2 separate regions of the Homo sapiens genome follow, and region 2 is linked to region 1. Evidence: fine-mapped expression QTL. A gene starts in region 1. The other region holds a variant in brackets. All regions are shown on one strand. Distances are between the middles of the regions.

Evidence for each region. PIP is the estimated chance that this variant, and not a neighbour inherited with it, causes the effect.
Region 2: its variant is fine-mapped to the expression of PIGA in fibroblasts (GTEx, PIP above 0.99).

The regions. Positions count from the first base shown.
Region 1 is chrX:15,332,138-15,344,296 of GRCh38, forward strand. It overlaps PIGA (phosphatidylinositol glycan anchor biosynthesis class A), which reads right to left and starts at 3,386. Exons shown (of 6, transcript NM_002641.4): 1 at 3,364-3,386. RefSeq lists enhancers at 3,138-3,187, 3,238-3,317.
Region 2 is chrX:15,263,372-15,275,530 of GRCh38, forward strand. It overlaps ASB9 (ankyrin repeat and SOCS box containing 9), which reads right to left and starts at 6,712. Exons shown (of 7, transcript NM_001031739.3): 1 at 6,410-6,712. The coding sequence starts at 6,503. The variant G/GA (reference allele first, on the strand shown) is at 7,131.

The DNA of each region.
Region 1 (12,159 bases):
TTGACATTTACTTGCTTGGCATTTACATACAACAAAACTAGGTTCTACCATGTCTTAATTTTGCCCTAAAAATACTGCTACATGTAACTTTAAATAGTAAGTTTGTTACACCACAGCATATCATGGTTTACCACGTTAACAAACCAGTCTCTTCCAATAATTAAGTATATATACACACATACATACACACATTTATATATTTCCCCTTTACTCTTATACTTTACCAGCTTCTATTAATACTTATTAAATGGCCACTATACATCAGCTACTACATGCTAAGACTCTTCTATATCTTATTGCAGCCTCACCAAAACTCCATGAGTTATCAACTCCATCTTATAAATGGAAAGTCTAAAGCTTAAAGGGGTTAAGAAATTTGTTCAGTTATTCAGTGCTTAGAGGTAACACAATGTAGCAGTCTGATTCATTAGCGGTCATGTCTTCTGGTATTTATGCCCTTCTATAGTATAGTCCCTTCCCGTTGCATTTGGACCTGGTTTAGCCCATAGAAGGTAGTGAAAGTGATGTGCAAATTTTTGGCCTCGGCCTAAAAAAGGTGTGGTGATTTCCAAGGTGTGGTGGTTTTCACTTGTGCACTCTTAGATATCCTAAGCCAAAGTGTAAGGAATCCATCTACTGTGCTAGAGGGACAAGGGAAGAGATAATATGGAGAAGGAAGAGCTCTGAGACTACATGGAAAGAGCCAGAGGCCCAGCCATCCAGCCAACTTACCAGCTAAATGCAGCCTCCTAGTGACCACTGGCAAGACCAAGAGAACCACCCAGCTGAGCCTAGCTCACTGCAGTATCATGAAACATACCAAAATGGCTATTGTTTTACATCGTCTTGGGGTGGTTTGGTAAAAAATAACAGACAACTAAAACAGGCCAGGATCCAAACTCGGTTATACTGGTCCACTGCCTGTTTTTGTAAAGTTTTATAGGCTCATAGGTGTGCCCATTCATTTATGTGAATGGCTACTTTTGTGCTACAAGAGCAGAGTAGCTACAACAGAGACCATATGACCCACAGAGCTGAAAATATTTACCATCTGGTCCTCTACTAAAGTTTGCCAACCCCTGCTCTATAGCTTAGCCACTGATTCAATTACTCTCAAAGTTTTGCTAGCATTACCTTTGTGGTTTACACTAAAACACACCCGGAGCTCGAACTATCTTTTTGAGAGCACCTTTTTCAAATGTCACCAGAGCACATGCTGCACACATGTTCTCCTTCCTTATTCAAAGAGGGTGATTATTTAGGCCGGGTGCGGTGGCTCACGCCTGTAATCCTAGCACTTTGGGAGGCTGAGGTGGGTGGATCACCTGAGGTCAGGAGTTCAAGACCAGCCTGGCCAACATGAAGAAACCTCATCTCTATTAAAAATACAAAAATTAGCTGGGCGTGGTGGTGCCTGCCTGTGGTCCTAGCTACTCGGGAGGCTGAGGCAGGAGAACCGCTTGAACCCGGGAGTCCGAAGTTGCAGTGAGCCGAGATCGCGCCGCTGCACTCCAGCCAGGGTGACACAGCGAGACTCCATCTCAAAAAAACAAAACAAAACAAAAACAAAAAACAGAAACACAAAAACCAAAGAGGGTGATTATGTAACTGCTCCCTTCACTTTTTAAACTTTTCTATCAGTTATGCAGGCCTTTCAAACTCAATGAGTGTCCCTCCCTTCAGTGCGGTGTCTAAAGATAAAGGCTAAACTAGAGATGGGCTGTATCTGGGACCATTTTCTCAATTTAAAGTGCGAAATGTTTATCTCAGGGGTCCCCTAAAGCTTTATTAATGTGAAATGCCCACTCAATATTTAGTACTACTGTACATTCTTAGACACTTAAAGCTAAAAAGAATCTTGGATATCTAGTCAAAATCTTCCTCAGCTTTACAAATGAGATTTCCAAGGCTCCAGAAAACAAACAACTATACAATGAGAAGCCATCCTAAAGCTCTGAGTTTCCGGTTTCACCTGCAAACTCAGAAAATGCCAATTAACTGTATGTGCAAAGGCTTAACTGTCTAGTCTCTCCAACAAATTCATCTACTTTTTTTTTTTTTTTTTTTTTTTGAGACGGAGTCTCACTCTGTTGCCCAGGCTAGTGTGCAGTGGAGCGATCTCGTCTCACTGCAGCCTCTGCCTCCCGAGTTCAAGCGATTCTCCCACTTCAGCCTCCTGAATAGCTGGAATTACAGGCGCACACCACAAGCCCAGCTAATTTTTGTATTTTTAGTAGAGACGGGGTTTCATCATGTTGGCCAGGCTGGTCTCGAACCCCTGACCTCAGGTGATCCACCAGCCTCGGCCTCCCAAAGTGCTGGGATTACAGGTGTGAGCCACCGTGCCCGGCCTCATCTACATTTTAAATATACTCTCGGAAAGACCCCAGAAGTGTTTGTTGACTGAGTTTACTAATTAAGATTCAATATTACCAAATATTGAAATTCCCCAAGTTTGTACTTTTAGGTGGCTTAACTAACATTTTCTTACTGTGGTCACCTAAACCCGAACTTCCAGTTCTACCAGTTTTAAAAGATGAACGATAGCAAAAACAGTGAGTAATGAACCAAATGATATCATTTAAAATGTTGTCATTAGCCTGCAACGTTCTGTGAGGAGTCTGCCCACTTCCGCCAGGTTTTCAGTCCAAACATCTTTGACATAAAAGTTCATTATGCTGCACAATCGCAGAATCTTAGCTCTTAAAGCCGAAATGAGGCTTGGAGCTCTAGTGAATACCTCTCTCGTTTTACAAATGAGAACCCAGACAAGTTGAGTGATTTGTCCAAGGTTCCCACCCAGCCACTTAAAGTGGCAAAGACATTACCGTAAAATTCTCGACCACGACCAACGAGCCCTGGGCAATCATTAGCAGTAGAGGTTCCTGAAGAACCTTAGGGAGACCTGGCAGGAGTTGTGGGTCAAGAGAATGGTACTTCCACCGACAATTCCTGGGCACTGTCTGAGCTTCATTCCCTGATTCCCTGAGAGGTCGCTGGGGAAACGCTCGGGCCAAGGAGGGGATACCCCTGCTCAGACAGCGACCCCGCTGGGTTCATGGCGGGGATGGCCAGGCCCAAAGAGAGAAAGAAAACAACCAAAGAGTGGACGTTGGTCTCAGGCCCGGGGTTCCGGAGACCCCAGTCCCTCGACCCACCCGCCTGAGCCAAGGAACCCAGCGCGTCCGCCCTAAACGCACCCTCAGCCCCAACCTACTCTGGAGACCCTCCGACCCAACTTCCGGGCTTCGAACCGGGTCGGTTTCACCCCCTCCACCACCCGCCACGATCCCACGCGCGCAGAACAGCCCCATCCGAAAGCGGCCCAGAGCGCTGGAGAGGGGCGGCGCGACGCGCACTCACCGGTGAGTTCCATGGCCGCCAGTGTCCGGACCTCCCGCGGCTGCAGCCGGAGTCCCTCCCTGCTGTTCCGCAGCACCAATCTAGGGCGTCCGCGCCCAAGGGCCGCGCCCCCGAGGCAGCCAATCACAAAGAGGCGCTGAGGTCACGTCCGAGAGAGACGCTCTGTCGTCCCCACCCTTAAGCGCGAGATGTAACGTCAGCGCGCGCCTGCGCCCGTCTCCTAGAAGCGGCCGACGGTAGGGTGGGTGCTCACCCTGGTTTCCTGGTTACAGCGTCTCTATTCCGGACGCCAGTTCTCTGCGCGCTTGCTTCTGATTGGAGAGACTTTTTGTTTGTAATCAGCTGTGCCACGGCAAAACCGTGCCGGTTCTTACCGCTCTGGGACGTTTGCCAGATAAATAAATAAAAATACACAAAAAGTCAAAACAGATGAAACTATGAAGTTTTAATTTCAGATAAAGCACAAATGATGTTTAATACAAGCATGTACCAAATATTGGGGACTTCACTACACATTCGTTTTTTATCGGACATGTAAATTTAACTAGACATCCTGTTATTTATATGGCAATTCTACACTCTGAGGGAAACATACGAGGTCTGATCTGAAATATCAACTCCCACTCGACTGGTTCAACTAGTTACGATGGTGCTTGACTAGGAAGCTAAAGAATCAGTGAGAGTGGTATGACGGTCATCCATGCGTCACAGCTGGTACTTGGAATCCCCCATCCCTGCCATACGTGCGTTTTCGAGAAGAAATTCCTTTCTGAGTACCATCACAGCCACCGTTACTGGCACCCATTTTATTAAGCCTAGTGTAAGCCTATTCATCCCTGAAAATGTCTGCTCCTTTCTGATGCTTTCCCCAAGCCTCCAGAGAATGAAATACTCTCACTTTTTAATTTTAATAGTACTTTGGCCACATGCTGGCCAAAGTATAACATTTATCAGATGATATTCAAGTTGTTTGCCTGATTGCATTCTCCCTCCTCACCCTGATCCTTGATTACTTGTCTCTTGAGATCTCACATGGACTTCTTTCTGAAAACGGAAATTGTATTTGCTTGTTAAATGTCTGCCTTCCCTGCCAGATAGTAAACTGAGGCAGGATCTGTTCTTGGTAATGGATGTTGAGGAAGTTTTAGTTTAATACATGAATTTCTTTACCCAATGTCAGCACACTCCCTGACACATATTAGATGCTCACAATAAAATGTATTGACAGTATTTCGTGGAGTGTACCTTATACAAATTACAGTGCAATAACATCATTGAAAGAGCATTTTAGTTGTGAGATTTGAAGCGAATTAATGAGTTGATGAGTAAGACTAGAGTAGCAATCGATACTTTGCCCTGTGTTAATATTGATGAAGCATCGGAGAATTACAGTGATGAAGACTCAAGGACACTTAATTAAGCTTTATAATTTGTAGTTGGTTTCACAGATAACAGCGACATTACCAGATAGGTACAGCATTTGGCCTCCTTTCCATTTTTGTAATAGGTTTTAAGACAAAGAGTGGGGGTAGAAATCCTGGAAGGTATAAATGAGGGTTAAGCCTCACTTATTGAGCCCCTGGTTTGCCCCTGCCATAGTTCTGATCACAGTACACGTTTGAAATTCCACCATGAATCTTTTTTCAAAATATAACAAATATTTCTTATTTTTATCATCAAACATTTACTGGATGTCTGCTCTGTAAAAGGCCTTGTGGGGAATACAAGAAATATTAAGCATAGTCCCTGTGTTTCAACAGCTTTTTATTTTTTCTAGCTTTTCCTGTACATGTTATCAATAGTCAAAAGAAATCCACCTTTCTTAAAAGGTTCTTTGTGTTTCAAATATAGAATAGGCTGACCTTTATAAATAGATATTAATAGAGGCACACTGTTGCTGAGTCTCTGTGGGGGAGGGCGTTGAGGAGCCTGCAGGCTGTTCCAACAAAGTCTGAAAACATTGAACATTTATTTAAAGCTCCAGCTTCTGTCCTAGGCACTGAGCATTAAAAGATAAATAAATCATGATTCCGACTCCCAAGGGTTCATAATCTCACCTGGGTACATGACTTCATTTATAGTCAGTTAAGTAAAGGTCTCCATTTAAGGCTATATTCTAAAAAGTCAAAAGAAATTTGTAGTAGCAAGATTAAGATATAAATCTGGAGATGATTCTAATTATGGTGTCCTGCCTTAATGTATGGTCTCAAGGTATGTCTTGAGAGAATTTTCTCCGGAACCACTAAAATTAGACTAAGATACTTACATGCATTATATTCTGATTGCACTTAATAAAATATGAGGGCAATTGGTACCAGTTTTAGTATTAAACGACCTGAGATGATGAAGATGTAAAATAAATGTAGATATCATCTTCCCTTGAAATTCAGTTTTTGCAACTTCATATGTAAATTAGCTCTTTGGGATAATCTTGGAGTGCGAAGGCAACAAACATGTCTTGAGAGCCTACTATCTGTGTACAAAGCACGATGCAGAGAAAACCTGGCATGAGCTTTACTTGCAAGGAAACAATACAGAGTTAAGGCATATGTAAATATCTACGATAAAAAGCAGGAAGTGATAAATGCCATAAGAGAAATATAAGAAAAATATTGGGAGTTCAAAGGGGAAGAGTATTTCTAGCTGCCAGCATTTAGCTAGAAGAATAAGTAGATGGTGTCATGCAACTCTTGGGAACAGGGTAATTCCAAGAACAACATGAATGAGGTACAGACAGGTGCTGTCCAGCAAACACTGCTTTGTAATCACAAAGGAAAAGAGAAGGGAAAGTGGGCAGACAGAAGAAGAGTGGCATTATCAATGAAGGTTAGAGCAAACTGGTAGAAGATATTACTAAGGAAAATGGGCTTGATGTTGAGGCGGACTTCCAGCCAAGATCACATTTTCAATTAGTATTTTGAGACTCCTAACTCCTGATTCTGCTTCAAATATAACAATAAGTGATACAATATAAATGAGAAAATTTAATGTTTTACCTGTGATTTAAACAAGAAGATAAACATTTCCGTGTATCAGAAACAGAACCAATACGCAAAATGGTGATCAGGAACAAAGCCACCTAGGTCCTGGATTCTGTATGTGGCAGCAGGAAGATGTGAACCAGGGTTCAGCCCCTGTAGAATAATAGACTAACAGGGTTCCATGTGTGGCTTGATACAGGAACCAGTTTTGTGAGAGACTGTTACAACGGTGACCTTCAATAAACCAGTATTCCATATTGGCAGCCTTGTCTAATCCTCTCCCACATTGGCTCTGGGTTTGAGCATGTGACTGGAATGGCCAAATGAGATGCCACAGATGCTTAATAAGTGTTTATTTACTGGGATGCATCTTGTTGGAACCTTTCCTCTTGAAAGCCAATGACCATGCTGTGAAGCTCAGACAAGATATTGGATAATGGCAAGCCACATGGAGAGAAGCCCTGAAGAATGAGAGGTCATCTTGGGCATTCCAGCAGTAAGTGAGTTCCCAATTTAATATAACCACTGGAGTGACTTCAGCCTATACTATGTGGAAAGAACCACTTAGCTGATCCTAACTAACCCACAGAATTATGAGAAATAATAAATCGTTATTGTCTCAAAACATTAAGTTTTTGGGTGATTTGTTACATAGCAATAGATAACCAAGCCTTATTGCTTAACCATCTCCCCTACTTGTGAATAGACATTGAAAGAATTTTTTGCCAACAGTCTGAGGATATAACTTTGCTAACAGAACTGAGCCAAGCAACATAATTTGCAATTTTCCACTATCACTGCTAGTCTGGGGGATATAAGCACACACACACACACACACACACACACACACACATACACACACACACACACGGGGAGAGGAGAGAGTGAGAGTGAGAGCGAGAGAGAGAGAGCTCTCAAGATTGGTTTATAAACCAAAATTCAAAAACAATGGAAGATATATAATATTAAGAAAGACAACACACAAATGTAACAATGGAAGAAGAATTCACTCTAGACGCAATTCAAATAATTTTTGAAATGACATTTTTAAAAGAATAAGAATTTGGAAATAAAAACATGCAGAAATTAAACAAACACCAGTGGATATAAAAGAATCAATTAGATACCTTGAACATGAAGATGTTACTAGCATTTTTAAAACTCATATTGATAAGCTTTAGGCTACACACTGTTGAAACAAAGGTTAGTGTGGTGGAAAAGAGTAACTAAGGCAGTTACTTCTTTTTGATGCAGAATATGAGATGAAATGTCAAACCACAATCAAAGCTTTGTCCTAGGAAAATTGTTCCAAGAACTGGAGAAAAGGAAGGTGAAAGAGTGGCACAGCTGGAGAAGAGACCAGTTAGGCTGTTCCAGTAGTCCAGAAGCCTCCTTGCAATTTAAAGTAGGGGCTGCAGATCAGCAACAGCAACTGGGAGCTGGTCAGAAGTGCAGACTCTCAGATTCTCCAGACCTGCTAAATCTGAATCTGCAATTTAACAAGATCTGGAATGATAGTATGCACATTATAGCTTAAGAAACTAGCTCTAGACTAGAGGCAATGAGGACCTGATGTTTTCTCGTGGCAATAAAAAAAAAGAGAGAGACAAGGAAAATCACAGGATATTGGGATTTGTTTGAGTGATGTCTTCCTTTTCGTTTTAGCACCCTTTTTTGAAGACCGTCCTCCAGTAGCCTCCTAAAGAAGACTGCATGGGAGATCGGGAGATTTTCTAAGAACTTTAATGTCTGAAAATTTATTTTTCAGCCCTCCAATTTTATTGATAGTTTGGGTGCCAAATAGTAGGCCAGAAATTATTTTCCTTCAGAAGTTTAGCAGCATTGCTCTAGCCTGCTAGCTTTTGGTGTTGCTATTGAGAAAACTAATTTCATTCGGATTCCTGGCCCTTTGTTTGAAGTTATCATAATTTTTCTTTACTCTGGAAACTTATACATTATCTCTTAGTCTCCCGTGTCCTGAAATTTCATCATTTTGTGCCTTGGTATAGGCATAGTTTCACCTTTTGGACTAGGGACTCAGAGAGCCTTTTCACTTGCCAACTCATGTGCTTCGAAATTCTCTTGAATTTTTAAATTGTTGATTACATCTCCTATTGTGTCTCTTCTCATTTCCTGTAACTTCAGTTATTCTGATGTTAGACCTTCTTATCTTTTCACTTTTAATTTCTTATTTATTCTACTTCATAGGAAATTTCTTCAACTCTGTCTTCCTTTTTTGTTCTATTGAATTTTCAATTTATTATAATAGTTTTAGTTTCCTAGGGCTCAATTATGTCCTCTGACATTTTCTTTTTTAATAACACCTTCATTTTATTTATTAGTTGCACTGTCTCACCTTCTTCCCTCATCCCCTGGCTATTAATGATTTGAAGTTTTCTTCTGTTTCCTCCAAATTGCCTTTTTCTGTGTGTTTTACTCTCTGTCTTTCATGTTAGAAATTTTCCCTGGAGGTCTGGGAATTCATGCTTGCTTGCTCATACTTAAAAGAAAGGGACAAAGGAGCTGATCTGAGGTCTGAGCCCAGGAATGGGGCTTGATGACCTCTTTGGGCTGTTCCATTTGATAGTCCCTCCCCCAGCTAATTTCAGTCCTTTTTAGGTCTTTTCTCTTAGGCTGGTAAGATTCCCCCTAGAGAAATACTTTTCCAGTACAGATCCAACTGCCTGAATTGTGGTTGCACCTAGTATGTACGCGTTCACTTAATCCTCTTGTTAGTTCAGCACCCTGCCCTCATGGATGTCAGGCATCCCCCATTCAGGATGCTCTCTCTTTTACCTTAGCCAAACGACTAATAACCCATCTTTTGCCTGGGGTTGGAAGGAGCAGTCACTCCACCACAGGGAATGTGGGAGAAGATTTGGGATCAAACTGTTTCTTATACAGATTTTTGGAATGAACCTCATTTTAGCACCCCTCTCATCCCTCCCATTTCTAGAGGTGCTTGGGACACCCACTTCTGAGCCTTTTGGGAACTCATCTTTCCAGACTGTTGGCTTAAATTATTTTTTTTTTCAGGTCGGCCACATCATTTACAACTTATCTACGTGCTTTTCAGCTTTCAGAACATTGTTGTTTCTGTTGACTTTATCATTTACCCTGTCCTTGCGGGCTTATGCTTTAAAAAAAAAAAAAAAATCCTGGTCCGGGTGCGGTGGCTCACGCCTGTAATCCCAGCACTTTGGGAGGCCGAGGCGGGTGGATCACAAGGTCAGGAGATCGAGACCATCCTGGCTAACATAGTGAAACTCCGTTTCTACTAAAAAATACAAAAATTAGCTAGGCATGGTGGCGGGTGCCTGTAGCCTGTAATCTCAGCTACTCAGGAGGCTGAGGCAGCAGAATCACTTGAACTTGGGAGGCAGAGGTTGCAGTGAGCCAAGATTGTGCCACTGCACTCCAGCCTGGGTGACAGAGTGAGACTCTGTCTCAAAAAAAAAAAAAAAAATCCCCTTACTCTTTAGGAGTATTTACTTTACCCAGGGCATTGGAAAAAAGAGAAAAAACAAACAAACAAAAAAAAAACTAATATGTTTATGCACTATCTCTATTTAGAGTCCACGCCATCAACACTAACATTTTAGAGCTATACCACAAACATAACTAGAACCCATCAATAAATGTATCCATGACTTTATTTGAATTGTGGAAACCTGAAATTTAAATCACTGTAACTTTTTAGCTTCATTGGGTTGCACACTACACAATGACTCAAATAAGGTGAGGCCAGTTGATTCCAACAATCGATCAAGGCCAGGTAAAAGTGCCATTTCTTATAGGGGTTCAAGAAGCAGTCTAATTCATTATATTTAATGTTCATTGATGACGTGATAAAATAAGAAATATTTTTACACAAGCGGTTGGCTAACTTTTTCTGTAATGGACCAAAGAGTAAATATTTTAGGCATTGCAAGCCAAACAGTCTCTGTCCCCAACTACTCAACTCTGCTGTTGTAGAATAAAAGTAGCCATAGACAATACATCAACAAATGAGCATAACTGTGTTCCAATAAAGCAGTATTTACCAAAACAACAGGCAGTGAGCTGAAAGTGGCCTATGGGCCATAGCTTACTGACCACTGTTTCAGAACAATATCAGTGATAAAATTACCAAAGGCAGACTTTCTTTCATGAAGCCATTAATAAGGGTCAAATAACAGAATTTTTTTGCTCCTTTTCATTTCATAAATATTTTGAGAATAGATTAAATTCCTTTCTAGAGTTGCAACATCTGAATAATTCAGACATGCATATAATTTAGCTGAGTTTGAAAAACATGAGCTATGTAAAATTACTCTTCACTTTTTAAAGAGATAATTTCATTGGCTGGCCACAAAATCAATGTAATAACTTATTATTTATTAAATATTTATTGAGTACCTAATATATGCAAGACATTGTTCTCACACTGAGGATTAAGACTAAATTAGGCAAAGTCCAGCTCTTGCTGACCAAATCTATTAAGCTCACAATTTTCACTGAACTATGGCTTTTCTTAAGGGCATTAAAACGTAATGTTTGTATAATTTCCTTTATCAAGTCTCTCAGACAGTATTTTAATCTTCATTCAACTCTGATCATCATGCTGCCTAATCTGTTTCCATCTCTAAAGGGCCTCCTGCCACACTGTTTTAGTCATAGATTTATGACGTGTGCTGTCACATTAATAATTCTCTGGCCCTGTGGCGTAATCAGGGACATCATGCATTGCTGGCATTTATTGTGTTTGCTTAAAGCTCTTGGAGTTTCTCACATACTTTTATTTTGCAACAAGTTGAGGATTTTCAACTCACGTTCCAGGGCTGTTAGTATGACAAATATTCCTGTGCAATGTCTAGTGAACTCTAAGAAAGCAACAGGCCAGTTACCCCACCTCCGCCCTCAAGGACCAGACCCATCCTGACCCAGCGTCAGGGATCCAAGTGCAGATCTTGATGGTAATTGGGAATTAAGGAGGAAGAAGAGGGAGGGGTTTTAGAAGCACAAAGCCAGATCACATTGAGTTTTGGCTTAGCTTAGAATTCCCTATGATAATCTCCATCTAAATGGCAATTATGAAGCCAGAGGCATTTCGAGCCAAAACATGGTTTGAGTTGGTTTTAGGACAGATCCAAGGATCCAGTATAAGCCAAGAACATCTCAGAGGTCCCAAGCTTCTGAGATTTGCTCAGTCTTGCTTTTTTCCTTCAGAATAATTCCTTTGAGCTATAAGGTACATTGTATTGTTCAATTTTTTTTTTTCACTAATCGTAACTCTAATGAAATTATCAATTCTGAGATTTAGGGAAATGAGATTATCATTTACATTTGACAGATGAGAAAACTGAGGCTCGATGACATTGTTCAGGCTTACAATGTGTTTAGGTGGCAGAGTCTGTCCTTAAATTCAGGTCTTTTCTCCTTAGTGATACATCCCCTCTTTTTACCAGTCGAGGATAAGCAAAGTAACTCCTTTAATTGTGTGGTATCCTTGAATTGTCTTCTGCCCCAGATCTCAAAGGAATTTAAGCAAATATCATGGAGAAGTTGGGAGTGGTAGAAACTGAACGAAAAGGCAAAGCAAAGAGTCGAATGCCAAGTATGTTTTAAAAAACTAAGTTATGTGCAAGCATTTTCAGAAGCCTGATTAAAAATACAGTAAAATGAGAAGGAAGAAGCCTGTTGACATCAAGGTCATAAAGTGAGGGCAAAAAGAACAGTGGCAAAAGAGGAGTGACTGGGTTGGCACCAGTAAATGACAAGAGCAATGACAATGGCAGCACAGTGGGGAGTGGTTCCAAGGCCAGGTGAAGGTTAG
Region 2 (12,159 bases), 69 kb before region 1:
TTATTGTGGACCTTGGTTTGATCCCAGGACAAACAGAAAGAGGAGAAAAAGAAACAAGAGGCTTACAGTCAGAAACAAACAGAAAGGCCCACTGAGGCAACTCTTGGGCAAGTCAGGCCTGTCCACTGCAGTTCTTTCTCCAGTTCCATCATCCAGCCTCTCCTCTCCTCTTTCTTCTCTCTCTTCTCTCTCTTCTCTTTCCTGTCTCCCTCTCTCTTCTCTCTCTCTCTCTCTCTCTCAATATAAAGCTGCCTTCTCCAAAGGGCCCTCACATTATCACCCATTCTGTCTCAACAGGCAGGTTTTCCCCCAGAAAACTCACCCCTCCTGAGGTGCCCCAATATCTAAAAATTCACCATAAGACAATAAAATTGTTTTCTTTCAATACCTGTTCTAGCTTGTCTTCTGTTTAAATGTGAATACTCTCTACAGGGTGGGCTCAATTTTGCAAGGATAGAAATATCTCTACAGTTGTCAGTCTTCAGGCAAAACCCCAAAAGATAGACACTAACACTGGGAACAGTGATTACCTGCTTGGTGGAATTATGGGTGGTTAGTTTATCCTTCAATGTATTTTCCTAAGTTTCTATGAGTAGGTATAAATTAGCCTCCTAGGGATACCATAACGAAACACCACAAACTGGGTGGCTTAAAACAACAGAAATTTGTTGTCGCCGAGTCCTAGAGGCTAGCAGTTGGCTAGAAGTCTGAAATCAAGGTGTGGACAGGGCCATACTCTATCCAAAGGCTCTAGGGAAAAATCCTTCCTTGCCTCTTCTAGCTTCTGGCAGTGGCCATCAGTCCTTGGTGTTCCTTGGTTTCTAGATGTGTCACTCCTATCTCTGCCTCTGTTGTCACATAGCATTCTCCATGTGTCTCCTTCTCCTTTTCTTATAGGGACTCTGGTCATGTTGGATTAAGGTCCATCCTACCCTACTTACGACCTCACCTGAACTAATCTTAACTAATAAGGTCACATTCTGAGGCACGGGGGTTAAGAACTTAACCATATATATTTTCAGGGTACACAATTTAACTCGTAACAAGCTACTTTCAGGAAAAAATTAAGACATTCTTTCCCTGCTCCTTGGACAGGAGAGTCTAACATGAAACAAATCTCTATAAAGAGTTGGTTGCCCATTTTTATAGCCTTTCCTCCCTCCCTACCCCCAGGGAAGTGGGCAGAAAAACGCCTGCAGGTGGAGGTGGGAGCAGCAAGATGATCCACACCTGGGCCCTATTTTCCCCTCTAACTTGGCCTTGTGCAAAGGGACAAGCTTCACCTGAGCTGAGTTTCTTGGCACAGCTATTTGAAAACAGCATTCTGAGTGTTCCCCATTCCACACTTCACCAAGGTTAAGACCTCAGAAGCATAAACAAAAGCAACCAACTACAATTGAGGTTTTACCCAAGGGGCAGGACTGATGCAAAGCAGACGGAGAATGACTCCACTTGAGTAGGGAGAGGTGGAAAGTCTAGGAGGGCTTCATGGGGGCAATGGCTCAGCTGGGTGTAGAAGGTGAGTAGCAATTTGCCAGTCAGATTCACAACAGGAGGTAAGAAACCAGAAGTATCCAGGCACCTACCCTTGTGACTTCTACTTCTTTGAAAACTTCTCTTCCCTTAGCACCTGTGTAATTACAACATCCAGAATCTCTTTCTGCTTCTCTGTCCAACTTACTGGTCCTACTTCATCAACTGGAGGCCTGTCCCAGGGTTCCATCCTTGGTTGACTCTCAGCTCTTAGCCATTGGACAATTTCTCCCTTCCCTAGGTTTCAACCACAGCCCCTCTGTAGGACATTCTGAGGTATCTGGCTTCTAACCTGTGATCGTTCCTAAGTCTCAGTCCCATGTCATCATACTGTGCACTGGGCATCATTGTTAGCACTATCATGTCCAAAACAGAACTCTGTATCCTCCCCTCCTCATCCTGCATCCAAGGCAACTTCCTTTCCAACTTCCCTCTTATCTAGCTTATCTGACATTACTTTGGGCTTGAGAACCTTATAATTTTGCCTGCCTTCTGTTAGTTCCAACATTTAATCAAGCAACATACGCTGATTTATCTTTCCTTTGAAATCATCGCCCTTTCTCTGTCATTTCCAAAGTTCGATCCAAATGTAAGTTTCATGGTTGGATTAGTGCAGTAGTTTTCAAAGTATGGTCCCTGACCAGTACCATCCATTTCACCTGGGAGTTTGTTATGAATGCAGATTCCTAGGCCCCCACCCCAGGCCTACGACTTCATCAAAAGCTGCATCATCTGCATTTTTTTTTTTTGAGACAGAGTCTCGCTCTGTTGCCCAGGCTGGAGTACAGTGGCATGATCTCAGCTCACTGCAACCTCCGCCCTCCCAAGTTCAAGCAATTCTCCTGCCTCGGCCTCCTAAGTAGCTGGGACTACAGGCATGTGCCAACACACCCAGCTAATTTTTTTTTTTTTTTTTGAGACAGAGTTTCACTCTTGTTGCCCAGGTTGGAGTGCAGTGGTGTGATCTCGGCTCACCACAACCTCTGCCTCCCGGGTTCAAGCGACTTTCCTGCCTCAGCCTCCCGGGTAGCTGGGATTACAGGCATGCACCACCATGCCCGGCTAATTTTGTATTTTTAGTAAAGACTGGGTTTCTCCATGTTGGTCAGGCTGGTCTGGAACTCCCAACCTCAGGTGATCCGCCTGCCTCGGCCTCCCAAAGTGCTGGGATTACAGGTGTGAGGCACTGCACCCAGTCAAATGTTTGTATTTTTAGTAGAGATGGGGTTTCACCATGTTGGATAGGCTGGTCTGGAACTCCTGACCTCAAGTGATCCGCCCACCTCAGCCTCCCAAAGTGCTGGGATTACAGGCGTGAGCCACCGTGCCCAGCCAGAAGCTGCATTATCTGTATTTCAATAAGCTCTCCAGGTGATGTAGAGGCACATGAGAATTTGAGAACCACTGGATGAATGCAACCATCTCCCACGATTCCAACACAATCTATCCCAGCTGTGGCTACCATGTTAATTGACCTACAGCCTTATTACCAGGTCTCTGTTCTAGAACCACCAATGGCTCTCAATTTCCTGCCTCATGAAGCCTGACCTCCTCCACTTAGCTCTTCAAGCTTTATCTGCCACTCCATCTCTTCAAACTTGTTCTCACTAGACTCCCTAAGACATTCACATTTTGCACTCTAGCTGTAAAAACTTGTTGACTTTACAAGCACCATGCCTTTGCGTATAACACCTGCCCACTCCCACTCACCCACCCTGACCCCACCAGGGTTGTATTAGGAACTTTAGAAATCCTGAACAGTTGGCTCACGCCTGTAATCCCAGCACTTTGGGAGGCCAAGGTGGGTGGATCACGAGGTCAGGAGATTGAGACCATCCTGGCTAACATGGTGAAACCCCGTCTCTACTAAAAATACAAAAAATTAGCCGGGCGTGGTGGCGGGCGCCTGTAGTCCCAGCTACTCAGGAGGCTGAGGCAGGAGAATGGCGTGAACCCGGGAGGCGGAGCTTGCAGTGAGCCAAGATTGTGCCACTGCACTCCAGCCTGGGCGACAGAGCGAGACTCCATCTCAAAAAAAAAAAAAAAAAAGAAAAAGAAACCCTAACAGTGAAAAGTGGCTGGTGCCTCTCTCCCATGTGGAAACAAAAATAAATACAATACTTAGCTATAAAATAACCGTGCAGAAGTCAACCAAATTACCGATTCTTTCCCATAATGATTGGTTTGCTGTTTTAAAAATATATTTATCGGCCGGGCACAGTGGCTCACACCTGTAATCCTAGCACTTTGGGAGGCCGAGGCGGGCAGACTTCCCTGAGCTCAGGAGTTGGAGACCAGCCTGGGGCAACATGGTGAAACCCCGTCTCTACTAAAATACAAAAAAAAAACACCCCAAAAAATTAGCCAGGCGTGTGCCTGTAGTCCCACCTAGTCCCTGCCTCTCCCTCCTGAGGCAGAATTGCTTGAACCCAGGAGGCCGAGGTTGCAGTGAGCCGAGATGGTGCCACTGCACTCCAGCCTGGTAACAGAGCGAGACTCCATCTAAAAAAAAAATATATATATATATATAATTATATATATAATTCCTTGTAAAAAGTGGCCGGGCGTGGTGGCTCACGCCTGTAATCCCAGCACTTTGGGAGGCCAAGGCGGGCGGATCACGAGGTCAGGAGATTGAGACCATCCTGGCTAACATGGTGAAACCCCGTCTCTACTAAAAATACAAAAATCAGCTGGGTGTGGTGGCGGACGCCTGTAATCCCAGCTACTCAGGAGGCTGAGGCAGGAAAGTCGCTTGAACACGGGAAGGTGGAGTTTGCAGTGAGCTGAGATTGCTCCACTGCATTCCAGCCTGGGTGACAGAGTGAAACTCCACTTCAAAAAAAACAAAAAAAAAAAAAAAAAAAGAAATTCTTTGTGAAAAGTGATTTTTGATGCCACTCTTGCTTTCCTAGTTCTCCAAACTCATGCTCAATACATCTGCTGATTAATCCAGTTCTGCCTTTGTGGATCTAAATCCCACTCACCATTGAGTACTCTGCTCATTTTATAAGTGAAATTGGATAAATGAATGAATGAATGAGCAGGCTAGTCTACTCAGTCAAAGGGAAGACGTTTTGTGTTTTATTTCTTCCATTTTTACCTTTTTGGTACCTGTATAGTAGATTAATAAACCCTGACTGACGGCCGGGCGTGGTGGCTCACACCTGTAATCCCAGCACTTTGGGAGGCCCAGGCGGGCAGATCACCTGAGGTCAGGAGTTCTAGACCAGCCTGGCCAACGTGGTGAAACCCCGTCTCTACTAAAAATACAAAAATTAGCCGGGTGTGGTGGCGGGCGCTTATAATCCCAGCTACTCGGGAGGCTGAGGCAGGAGAATCTCTTGAACCCGGGAGGCAGAGGTTGCAGTGAGCGGAGATCTCGCCATTGCACTCCAGCCCAGGCGACAGAATGAGACTCCGTCTCAAAAAAACAAAACAAAACAAAACACCCTGACTTCAGGGTCCCTGTTTATTGCCCCTTTGATCAACAGGTGCTGTGGACAGTATACCAGGTATATATTTTTTTCTTTTTTCTTTGATACGGAGTCTCACTCTGTCGCCAGGCTGGAGTGCTGTGGCGAGATCTAGGTGCACTGCAACCTCCGCCTCCCGGGTTCAAGTGATTCTCCTGCCTCAGCCTCCCGAGTAGCTGGGATTACAGGCACGTGCCATCACACCCAGCTAATTTTTGTATTTTAGGTAGCGACGGAATTTCATCATGTTGGCCAGGATGGTATCCTGACATCGTGATCTGCCCGCCTCGGCCTCCGAAAGTACTGGGATTACAGGCGTAAACCACCGTGCCCCGCCTATATATACAGGCCTGAACCCGGGAGGCGGAGGTTGCAGTGAGTCGAGATCGCGCCACTGCACTCCAGCCTGGGCCACAGAGCAAGACTCCGTCTCAAAAAGAAAAAAAAATTAATAAATAATAAATACAGCAATTCAGCAGGGCTGCTGCAACACCAGCTTTCCCAGCTCTGGGTGCTGGGGCTTGTCTCCGTCACAAGCCCCCAAGGATCTCAACAGGGTGAACAACAGTTGCAGAAAGTGAGCTGTTGCCTTCACCCTCACCCTGCTGCTCCCTTTGCTCTCCGAAAGTTACGAACTTTGAGTTTCCTTCCCGATAAACTCCAAGGTTTCCTCACTGATTGGTCTCAGTTTGGGAAAGGACGTGACATCAGCAAGTTTGCAGACTTGGGGCTGGAGAGTTAACCAGTATATTACTAACCAATATACTATTATTTATAAGAACCTGTGTGCAAATGCCTAAACCCATTTTTCAGAATCCTTTCAGCCAACAGGCACCTGCTGAATGCTCACCGAAGTGTGTATTTGTGGGATTCTGTACATTAGCACAGACACCACTTGACAGATGAGAACAATACCTGTAAGATGATTCTCCAATGTTTTAAGTAAAACAAAGTCTCTTTTGTCTCTTTTGAAAGTGACTCAATCAGTGCTCAATGTTTGAACATCTTTATAAACCCTGCCCCACCTAAATGCCAAACACCTAAGACTTACAAATTAAAAAGTTTTAGCATTAAAAATTTTCCTATTTATAAGTAACTTTCAAACCTCCAATTTAATAAATAATGCATTTGACCCACAAAGAATGATTCCTGGGAGCTGAAATTTTCACTGGAGAATAATTTGTGACAATTGAATTTGTCTTGTCTGTAGGATTCTGCAGAAAGAAGTATACACATTTTTGAACAGCTGTGTAAAGAATATATACCAGTGAGCTGTGGACATCTGCCCAGTAACAGCCCCATGGACACCTCACACAGAGCCACTGAAACTGCCCAACCCTCCTCTCCTAAGCACATTAGCCAACCTCCCCAGGGCTGATTCCACTGCCCCTATGACTCACCGCCCATCAATGGGTTTGAAAGAAGCCTGATGCCAGGAAAGTCCCTTGGCCCCGCGGGCTTGCTCCCATCCATGCCCCCTTGTTTGCCATCCATGATGCTCTCTCCTAAGCGAGCAAGCTCTGCGCTCCACTTCAGTTGCTCAGCAAAGTCCAAACTCCATGCTCCCCCTGCTCCTGAAAAATTCCAGTTCTGTGGCTGGCTGAGCTGCACACGTTCTGGTCAAATGGTCTGCAGCAAAGCACAGAGCAGGCAGGGTAATCTGAGTGCTACCTGTGATCAGAGAGAGGCATGCGCTCGTGTACACACACACACACACACACACACACACACGTTTTACCTAACTGGCTGGAGGCCCGCCAGAGGCCACAAGAACCCTCCAGCCCTAAGTCTGCGAAGTTGCTGATGTCACGTCCTTTCCCAAACTGAGACCAATCAGTGAGGAAGCCTTGGAGTTTATCAGGAAGGAAACTCAGTTTGTAACTTTTGAGAGTGAAGGGAGCAGGGTGGGGGTGAAGGAAACAGCTCACTTTCTGCAACTGTTGTTCACCCTGCTGAGATCCGTTTGTTACATGGTAGCTTGTTATGGAGACAAGCCCGAGCACCCAGAGCTGAGAAAGCTGGTTTTGCAGCAGCCCTGCTGAATTGCTTGCACAGTAACATGCACAGCACGCCCTGGCCATCTGTACATGTGCTTTCAATTGTGCTGGGAGTTTCTTATGG[G/GA]AAATGTGTCTATATGTTACAAAAAATGTACCTTTGGAAAGAACCATTTGTTCCTTTCAGCTGCAAGAATTTCACTAAATGTCCTACCTCACCCCTCCTCCACTCATTTTAACTTCTAAATAAATAATGAACGGTTGCAATTGGAAAAATGGATTGCTAGGTGGCCTGAGATGTGGAAGAGACCTGCTATCTTTTCATTGTGAATTACTAAAATTTATTTTGTTAACGTTTTGCTGTTTTTGCTTATACAAAACATTAGGGGCCGGGCGCGGTGGCTCATGCCTGTAATCCCGGCACTTTGGGAGGCCAAGGCGGGCGGATCACGAGGTCAGGAGTTTGAGACCAGCCTGACTAACATAGTGAAACCCCGTCTCTACTAAAAATACAAAAAAATTAGCTGGGCCTGGTGGCAGGCGCCTGTAATCCCAGCTACTCGGGATGCTGAGGCAGGAGAATCGCTTGAACCCAGGAGGCAGAGGTTGCAGTGAGCCGAGATCATGCCACTGCACTCTAGCCCAGGCGACAGTGCGAGACTCCACCTCAAAAAAAAAAAAATTTGGATGTACTGTGTCCATGTCTTTTCAGATAAACCCAGTTGCCTCACACCCCTGGGTGCTACTTCAGGCTGACAGGCACCTCTAGACTCCCACCATTCCTCTCTTCCAGGTAGAAGAGGATTTTTCATCCCCATGGGGGAAGGCTCTGAGTTAAGTCTCAAGCATAGACTGGCTGTGAAGTGATTGCAGATTTGTCTTAATGCCAAAGATGAGGCCTAGATGTTTTAGATTTACGGAGTCTCAGTTAAAACATTTGGTGGCTGTTATTAACAGTTTGAGGGGTGTAATTCACGTTTTTAAAGGCATTTATATGCATACACATGTATGCACATTTATCAATTTACATTTTCCACATAAATGTACCTATATTATTCTTTTTTTTTTGAGACAGGGTCTCACTTTGTCACCTGGACTCGAGTGCCATGGTGTCATATCGGCTCACTGCAACTTTCACCTCCTGAGCTCAAGCAATTCTCCTGCCTCAGCCTCCTGAGTACCTGGGATTACAGGAGCGCACCACTGTGCCCAGCTAATTTTAGTATTTTTAGTAGAAACAGGGTTTCACCATGTTGGCCAGGCTGGCCTCAAACTCCTGATCTCACGTGATCCCCCTTCCTTGGCCTCCCAAAGTGCTAGGATTACAGGCGTGAGCCACCGCACCCGGCCCCTATATTATTCTATTATTCTATGCTTTTTACACTTATTTTGTCTGTGAGAGCTTTCCATATCAGCTTTTATAGGTATGCTCCTGTCTTTATTCACTGTTGCATAGCATTCCATATTGTGCCAGAAGTATTTAATTATGCTCCTAATGATGCAAGCAGAATGTCATTATTTCTGTTAGTACTATGAAAGGACTAAAGTTCATATTTTTGTACATGTGGCTTTGTGCACATAGGCAAATATTTCTAGAGGAGAGATTCCTAAGAGTGGAAATGCTAAGTCAAAGGCATACTTATGCACATGTAATAAATTGTATAAAACTGAAGACACACACAGGAATGAGTACAAGTAAAACCGGGGAATTGAATAAGATCAGTAGATTGTATGAATGTTGATTTCCCAGTTACAATATTGTACTATAGTTTTGCAAAAAGTCACCATTGAGGGAAACTGGGCAAAGTGCACTGGAGATCTCTATGTGATTTCTTACAACTGCATGTGAATCTGTAATGATCTCAATACAAATTGCACTTTTTGAAAAGAGGCTGCTCATTTAAAATTTGGATAAACACTACTAAACTTCCCTCTATCTCTATTTGCAGAATTAACTGAGAAGGCCATAAGCATACAAATTCTTTACCACTCCATCAGGAAAGATCTGAAGAATGATACATTTGTTTGGCAGAGAGTGAGGAATTGATTCCCAACACAGACTGGATGAGGAGTTGAACAGAAGGGCACAATGGGGAAACTGGATACTATTTCCTTTCCTTCCCAGTAAAATCTTTGTACTACAGCTTCTTTATTTACTTTTAATTAAATTCCAAGTAGATAAGCCTTTTCCATATTCAAAATTAAGTTCCAAAATGACAATAAAGAAGATTTCCAGGTTGTTTCCCTAGTACCTGGGAGGGAATTAATTCATCAGCCTTTAATCTTCTCATTTTATTTATGATGTTGATCAACACCAGTGAATAGGAGGATTGGAGATGAATTTTTAAACTGTTTAACAACAGTTCTTTACAAGGGGAGTTCATGCATTTGTGGATTTGTATGAGGATAAAGTTGAATCACATGTGTATGAGCTTTGATTATGGAGAAATTGGTTGGCTTACCAACAGCCATAAGAGAAAAGCAATCTTACCAACTTCTAGTCAGCCTTGGTGTGTGTCAGTGTGTGTGTCTGGATGTTCAGTGAAATTGGCACAGGTTAGGTTAGAAAACAGAATGATCGTTGCCTGCAGCAGATGATAAGGCCACAGTCATTCCTCACCAGGAGCAGTGTTCACACTAGCCAGGGCCTCTGCCCCACCCCTCACTTAGATGTCCAAGGCACACCTCAGGTATGGTTTAGGAGACTCTTTCCTCCCCAATGTAGCCGGCTCAAGTCCAGCTGCTAAGAGGCTGAAAACTTAAGAAGCGAGAGGTATGGTGAAAGGAAATCAACTTTATCTAAATGCTGCTGAGAGATGAAGCCAGCTGGAATTCCTGGGTGGAGTGGGGACTTGGAGAACTTTTGTGTCTAGCTAAAGAATTGTAAAAGGACCAATCAGCACTCCATAAAAACCCACCAATAGCGCTCTGTGTCTAGCTAAAGGATTGTAAACGCACCAATCAGCACTCTGTAAAAACGCACCAATCAGTGCTCTGTGTCTAGCTAAAGGATTGTAAGCGCACCAATCAGTACTCTGTAAAAATGCACCAATCAGCACTCTGTGTCTAGCTAAAGGATTGTAAATGCACCAATCAGCACTTAAAAACACGCCAATCAGCGCTCTGTGTCCAAAGGATTGTAAATGCACCAATTAGCACTCTGTAAAAACGCACCAATCGGTGCTCTGTGTCTAGCTAAAGGATTGTAAATGCACCAATCAGCACTCTGTAAAATGGACCAATCAGCGCTCTGTAAAATGGACCAATCTGCAGGATGTGGGCGGGGACAAATAAGGGAATAAAAGCTGGCCACCCCCCCAGCCAGCAGCAGCAACCTGCTCGGGTCTCCTTCCATGCTGTGGAAGCTTTGTTCTTTCACTCTCCAGAATAAATCTTGCTGCTGCTCACTCTTTGGGTCTGTGCCACCTTTAAGAGCTGTAACACTCACCACAAAGGTCCATGGTTTCATTCTTGAAGTCAGCAAGACCAAGAACCCACTGGAAGGAACCAACTCCGGACACATTACCAGTTGGAGAATGGCCTGCCTTTGAAAGACCGTTCCAACTTTTTGGGCTGAGTGAAGGGGTTTATGGAGGAAAAAGGTGTGGGAAAATGTGGGAATATCAAGGGAGGGAAGAGCTCTGTGTGTCTCTTTCCCATGGCTATCTTTACTAATCGCCAGCCCGGAAGTCCAGTTTGTGTCATCCTCACTTCTGCCCGGTAGTGGTGGGCTAACTGTTCATAACTCCCCCAAGCAGGAGGATTCTGCTGCTGGGTCTCTGTGCCTTTTTTTTTTTTTTTGCTTAAAAATTGACCCCTGGAATTTCTAAGCAAGCATGTAATTAGATAAGTGAGCACTGTTCACAAAAGTGCCTGGTGGAAAAGAGAGAAACAAAGAGTTTCAAAGTATGTTTCAACGCTGAAAGCAAGAAAGAAAAAAAAAAGTTTTAAAATGCATTTTGAGGCTGGGATGCTCAGTTACACTGAGACCTTGGGGGAGCCTTCAAAGTCACTTCCAATCAGTCAAAGTTGGTCCAGGAGCTGAAGCTTCTTCTTATTTCAGCTGGCAATTTTTCTAGCACAAAACCTTTAACACCTAAAAGGTATACATCTGCTCTGACAACGTGGAATACTCTGCTTCTACTGCTTTAGAGAGAAGTCAGTCAGTCCTACTCCGCCAAGCAGTACGATAAGACTCAAATAAGAATGTGTTTTTTCAAAAATCTGGCATTATGCAGTATTCTTGAGGAAACAATCAGGCGGATCAAAATTGAGAGATAATCACATAACAATGGGACTGGACTCTTCAAAAATGCCAATGGCATGAAAGTCAAAAGCGGGGACGGGAAGCTTTCTAGATTAAAAGAGAATAAAGAGACTTGGTAACTACGTTCGATGCATGATCCTCAAAGAGATCCTGAATGGTGGAACATGACAGAAAATATATCATTAATGCCACAAGTGTGAGAACTTAAATCTGGATATACAGGATAGTTGTGCATCAGTGTCAAACCTCCTGTGTGTGATTACTACACCACAGTTCCACAGGAGAATCTCTGTGTTCTTAGGAGATGCACACTGAACTGCTCTGTGCTGAACCATATGGGAGCAAGAGGCCAAAAGGGAAATGTATGCCTTTATGCATATTTTGCACCAAGTATAAAAAGTTAATGTAAGCTGCGCAGTCAAAACACAAGTATGTATAAAGCCTGCGTTGCCCAATCTGTTTGCATGGCATTGTCACTCCTCAAAAACCCAGCAGCCACATATCCCAGAACCAGAGGCTGATTGGAAACACTATTCTCATTGCACAATAATGCAGGGACATAAACAACAAGAGCCTGTCTTGCAGGCTATTTTGGCTATCATGGGCTTTTTGCCTTAACATTGACTTTTCAAAACAGTGCACTAAAATATGCACATCAATGACTTTTTTTGCCCTCTTAAATTTTTTGCCTCACTCACCTAATCCTGATTCTAGCCCTGGTGAAGGATCATGATGCCCACAACTTACAAATCGTTCATTTTTTTAATATATGGATATGTGTTAATCATATATGAGTTTACATATATGGGTGTGTGTGCACATGTGCATTTATATATGTATATATGTGTATACATTTGTATATGCATATGTATGTGTATACATGCCTGTA